Homo sapiens: one gene and its partner. The protein of the gene in region 1 interacts with the protein of each later gene in a biochemical or structural test. Each region holds a gene or a part of one and is shown in the gene's direction. Other genes may lie near its edges.

The links. Proteins that work in one complex are often made in the same cells at the same time.
Region 2: the proteins of NFIL3 (region 1) and CREB3L3 interact in a test that uses a peptide from one of them, tested with the Homo sapiens proteins (one large-scale study listed by IntAct).

What each region holds. Positions count from the first base shown.
Region 1 is NC_000009.12:91,408,545-91,411,188, reverse strand, and holds the end of NFIL3 (nuclear factor interleukin-3-regulated protein), read left to right. Parts: intron 1-8; exon of another isoform or gene 9-186; intron 187-282; 5' UTR 283-454; coding exon 455-1,843; 3' UTR 1,844-2,144; downstream 2,145-2,644.
Region 2 is NC_000019.10:4,160,131-4,163,630, forward strand, and holds part of CREB3L3 (cyclic AMP-responsive element-binding protein 3-like protein 3), read left to right. Parts: intron 1-3,500. UniProt on the Homo sapiens protein: Transcription factor that may act during endoplasmic reticulum stress by activating unfolded protein response target genes. Activated in response to cAMP stimulation. In vitro, binds to the cAMP response element (CRE) and box-B element.

The sequences.
Region 1 (2,644 bases):
TTCTCTCTGGGCAGAGGTTATTTTATTTTTCCCTCACTTTCCTGGATCACATATTCTCTTACTGATAGGCCTCATTAGGGATTTGTCCTTTACAGCTTTATAGTTTAGGTATTTGGGAACTTATTTCCTTTTTGAAAATGCTAACTTGTTGAAAGAAAGAACTGTGGCCATGCCTCATCTGTGCTTGTATGCCCTAAATGCTTAGCATATTTCCTTGTACATAATTTGTAATAAACATTTATCCAGTGAATAACTGGTTTTTTTTTTATTCATGTATTGCAGATAACGAAGGAGGCCCAACTTCATTCAATAAGGAGCCTGACGGATTTATCCCAGACGGTAGAACAAAAGGAAGAATATTGATGGATTTTAAACCAGAGTTTTTAAAGAGCTTGAGAATACGGGGAAATTAATTTGTTCTCCTACACACATAGATAGGGTAAGGTTGTTTCTGATGCAGCTGAGAAAAATGCAGACCGTCAAAAAGGAGCAGGCGTCTCTTGATGCCAGTAGCAATGTGGACAAGATGATGGTCCTTAATTCTGCTTTAACGGAAGTGTCAGAAGACTCCACAACAGGTGAGGAGCTGCTTCTCAGTGAAGGAAGTGTGGGGAAGAACAAATCTTCTGCATGTCGGAGGAAACGGGAATTCATTCCTGATGAAAAGAAAGATGCTATGTATTGGGAAAAAAGGCGGAAAAATAATGAAGCTGCCAAAAGATCTCGTGAGAAGCGTCGACTGAATGACCTGGTTTTAGAGAACAAACTAATTGCACTGGGAGAAGAAAACGCCACTTTAAAAGCTGAGCTGCTTTCACTAAAATTAAAGTTTGGTTTAATTAGCTCCACAGCATATGCTCAAGAGATTCAGAAACTCAGTAATTCTACAGCTGTGTACTTTCAAGATTACCAGACTTCCAAATCCAATGTGAGTTCATTTGTGGACGAGCACGAACCCTCGATGGTGTCAAGTAGTTGTATTTCTGTCATTAAACACTCTCCACAAAGCTCGCTGTCCGATGTTTCAGAAGTGTCCTCAGTAGAACACACGCAGGAGAGCTCTGTGCAGGGAAGCTGCAGAAGTCCTGAAAACAAGTTCCAGATTATCAAGCAAGAGCCGATGGAATTAGAGAGCTACACAAGGGAGCCAAGAGATGACCGAGGCTCTTACACAGCGTCCATCTATCAAAACTATATGGGGAATTCTTTCTCTGGGTACTCACACTCTCCCCCACTACTGCAAGTCAACCGATCCTCCAGCAACTCCCCGAGAACGTCGGAAACTGATGATGGTGTGGTAGGAAAGTCATCTGATGGAGAAGACGAGCAACAGGTCCCCAAGGGCCCCATCCATTCTCCAGTTGAACTCAAGCATGTGCATGCAACTGTGGTTAAAGTTCCAGAAGTGAATTCCTCTGCCTTGCCACACAAGCTCCGGATCAAAGCCAAAGCCATGCAGATCAAAGTAGAAGCCTTTGATAATGAATTTGAGGCCACGCAAAAACTTTCCTCACCTATTGACATGACATCTAAAAGACATTTCGAACTCGAAAAGCATAGTGCCCCAAGTATGGTACATTCTTCTCTTACTCCTTTCTCAGTGCAAGTGACTAACATTCAAGATTGGTCTCTCAAATCGGAGCACTGGCATCAAAAAGAACTGAGTGGCAAAACTCAGAATAGTTTCAAAACTGGAGTTGTTGAAATGAAAGACAGTGGCTACAAAGTTTCTGACCCAGAGAACTTGTATTTGAAGCAGGGGATAGCAAACTTATCTGCAGAGGTTGTCTCACTCAAGAGACTTATAGCCACACAACCAATCTCTGCTTCAGACTCTGGGTAAATTACTACTGAGTAAGAGCTGGGCATTTAGAAAGATGTCATTTGCAATAGAGCAGTCCATTTTGTATTATGCTGAATTTTCACTGGACCTGTGATGTCATTTCACTGTGATGTGCACATGTTGTCTGTTTGGTGTCTTTTTGTGCACAGATTATGATGAAGATTAGATTGTGTTATCACTCTGCCTGTGTATAGTCAGATAGTCCATGCGAAGGCTGTATATATTGAACATTATTTTTGTTGTTCTATTATAAAGTGTGTAAGTTACCAGTTTCAATAAAGGATTGGTGACAAACACAGAACTCCTGCTCCATTGCATTTGATTTGATGGAGAAGAAAAGTCAATTTAAGTTATAAAAATAAATATTAAGATATTTTACATTTTATATGAGAGAGTTTTCTCCCCTGAATAAGAGAAAACTGAAGTGCTAAGTTCAGCAAATAATTTGTTTTTCCAGGCTTCTAAAGAAAGAAAAATAACAGTGAATTTTCTTGCATTTGAGACTAATTCACTAAATTACTTTATATTATATATTTTTCTGTAAGATTATGTTTTCTCTATAATTTTCTTAAGTATAAAAATACAAGTTGTTTGGTAACAGCCTCTTCTTAGTTATCTACCCTTTAAGTATGACACATGGATGTGGATAGTTGAGTCACTGATGCATTTTATTAAAGTCTGTTTTAAAAGAGCAGATAAAGACTGAGGATGAGGCATTTTTATGTTATTATAAGTCTTAACAGTTCTAGAGTATAACAATCTAGGGAACTAAGCTAAACACTGTTTAGTTTCTAAAATTTC
Region 2 (3,500 bases), on another chromosome or scaffold:
ACAAAAAATACAAAAATTAGCCTGGCATGGTGGCACATGCCTGTGGTCCCAGCTACTCGGGAGGCTGAGGTGGAAGGATCGCTTGAGCCCAGGAGGTCAAGGCTGCAGTGAGCTGTGATTGTACCACTGCACTCCAGCCTGGCCAACAGACCAGGACTGTCTCAACAATAACAACAACAAAAAGAACAAAGCTAAAACTGAGGCTGCACCTGCTATATGCCAGGCGCTCTTTATTTATCATCTTAAAAAAGTTTTTTTTGAGACAGGATCTCACTCTATCGCCCAGGCTGGAGTGCAGTGGCGCAATCCTAGCTCACTGCAGCCTCAAACTCCTGGCCTCAAGCGATCCTCCTGCCTCAGACTCCCAAGTAGCTGGGACTACAGGCGTGCACCACCACACCCAGCTAATTTTTCTTGTCTTTTTTATTTTATTTTATTTTTCTGAGACAGAATCTTGCTCTGTTGCCCAGGCTGGAGTGCAGTGGTGCAATCTCGGATCACTGCCACCTCTGCCTCCCGGGTTCAAGTGATTCTCCTGCCTCAGCCTCCCAAGTAGCTGAGATTACAGGCATGCACCACCAGGCCTGGCTAATTTTGTTTTTCTTTTTTCTTTTTTTTTTTGAGATGGCGTCTTGCTCTGTCACCTAGGCTGGAGTGCAGTGGCGTGATCTCGGCTCACTGCAAGCTCCGCCTACCGGGTTCACACCATTCTCCTGCCTCAGCCTCCCCAGCAGCTGGGACTACAGGAGCATGCCGCGCCACCTGTCTAATTTTTCTTTTCTTTTTTTTTTTTTTTTTTGAGACGGAGTCTTGCTCTGTCACCTAGGCTGGAGTGCAGTGGCGTGATCTCGGCTCACTGCAAGCTCCGCCTACCGGGTTCACACCATTCTCCTGCCTCAGCCTCCCGAGTAGCTGGGACTACAGGCGCCCGCCACCACACCTGGCTGATTTTTTGTATCTTTTTAGTAGAGATGGGGTTTAACTGTATTAGCCAGGATTTTTTTTGTATTTTTAGTGGAGACAGGGTTTCATCATGTTAGCCAGGATGGTCTCGATCTCCTGACCTCGTGATCTGCCCACCTCGGCCTCCCAAAGTGCTGGGATTACAGGCGTGAGCCACCGTGCCCCGTTTAGACCCAGCTGATTTTTCTTTTAATTTTTTTCTGTAGATATGGGTCTTGCTATGTTTCCCAGGCTGGTCTTGAACTCGTAGCCTCAAGTGATCCTCCTGCTTTGTCCTCTCACAGTGCTGGATTATAGGCATGAGCTACTGCGCCCCGCCTGGGGCTTTTATTATCTTAATTTTACATAGGAGAAAAAGGGCACAGAGAGGTTCAGTCATTTGCCCAATGCTACACAGCTGATGCAGGCTTGATCCCTGGGATGGTCTATTGAGCTTATGGTGCCCATTGCACACCAATTGAAGGCCATCTACCCTGCCAAGGGCTTCACGCTCCCATAAGCCAGGTTTGACAACCCAAACCCATTTTGCAGATGAGAAGGTAGGTCAAGGCCCAGAGAGGTTAAGCCATGAGCCCTAAGTCACACAGCATGCAAGTGGCAGACTCAGGGTTTTGAAATCCTGTTTCTCCAATGCCAAAGGTTATCCTGATAATCTCTAGTGAAGGCCAGGGTGCCCCTGGCAACTAGAGGGATATGCAGTGAGCACCAGCTGTGTGCTCAGCCTCTAGGATCTGATGGTCAGGATGGGGCGATGTACTGTTCATTAAGGTGTACAGAAAAGAAAGAGAGCCTGCAGGGTCACTGCAGATCCAGGAAGGCTTCCCGGAGGAGGCAGTACTTCAGCAGGCCATGAAGGAAGGGAAAGGAGAATGAACGACTGCTTTGGCAATGATAACTGGCTTATTTTGTTTTATTTTATTTGTTTATTTTTTGAGACAGAGTCATGGTCCGTCGTCCAGGCTAAGTGCAGTGCCACAGTCTCGGCTCACTGTAGCCTCCACCTCCTGGGCTCAAGTGATTCTCATACCTCAGCCCCCAGGTAGCTAGGACTACAGGTGCCTGCCACCATGCCCGACTAATTTTTGTATTTTTAGTAGAGACGGGGTTTCACCATGTTGGTCAGGCTGGTCTCGATCTCCTGACATCAGGTGATCCACCCGCCTCAGCCTCCCAAAGTGCTGGGATTACAGGCATGAGCCACTGTGCCTGGCCTTATTTTATTTTATTTAAAGTCAAGGTTTCCCTCTGTCACCACAACTGCCTCAAATTCCTAAGCTCAAGTGATCCTCCTGCCTCGACCTCCCATTTTTTTTGTATAGCTGACATACAGAACAACGATACAAAAAAAAATGATGCATTTATAAATGCTAGTTATCAGCAGTTGAAGACCAGCCTGGGCAACATAGCAAGACCTCGTCTCTACAAAAAAAAAAAAAAAAAATTAGCTGAGTGTGGTGGCGCACACCTGTAGTCCCAGCTACTCAGGAGGCAGAGGCAGGAGGATCACTTGAGCTCAGGAGGTCAAGGCTGCAGTTAGCTATGATCACACGACTGCACTCCAGCCTGGGTGACACAGTGACATCTTGCATCTTAAAAGAAGAAAAGATGGGTGTGGTGGCTCATGCCTGTAATCCCAGGAATTTGGGAGGCTGAAGTGGACAGATTGCTTGAGCCCAGGAGTTTGAGACCAGCCTGGGCAACAGAGTGAAACCCCATCTCTACAAAAAATTCAAAATTAGCCAAGCATGGCGGTACGCTCTGTGGTTCCAGCTACTCGGGAAGCTGAAGCTGGAGAATCGCTTGAGCCCGGGAGGCGGAGGTTGCAGTGAGCCAAGAGAGCACCACGGCACTCCAACCCGGGTGAAGTAGCAAGACCCTATTTCAAAAATAATAATAGTAATAATACAATGAAAAGAAGAAAGCTGTCAAAAGGGCCGGGCGCGGTGGCTCACGCCTGTGATCCCAGCACTTTGGGAGGCCGAGGCGGGCAGATCACGAGGTCAGGAGATCGAGACCTTCCTGGCTAACACGGTGAAACCCCGTCTCTACTAAAAATAACAAAAAATTAGCCGGGCGTGGTGGCGGGCACCTGTAGTCCCAGCTACTCAGGAGGCTGAGGCAGGAGAATGGCGTGAACCCGGGAAGCAGAGCTTGCAGTGAGCCGAGATCGCGCCACTGCACTCCAGCCTGGGCGACAGAGCGAGACTCGTCTAAGAAAGAAAGAAAGAAGAAAGAAAAGAAAGAAAGAAAGAAAGAAAGAAGGAAGGAAGGAAGGAAGGAAAGAAAGAAAGAACCCTGTCCATATGCCATTTTGCGCGTGTGTGAGGATATCTGTAGGACTGATTTCTGAAGGTAGAATGACCCGGTCAAAGGACCGTGTGTTGGTTATTTCGAGCCCTGCTGCCAAGGGAGATTCTGTGGTGGCAGGAGTGATAGTTTTTGTTGTTGCTGTTTTGAGACAGAATTTCTGTCGCCCAGGCTGGATCTCAGATCACTGCAACCCCTGCCTCCCGGGTTCAAGCGGTTCTTCTGCCTCA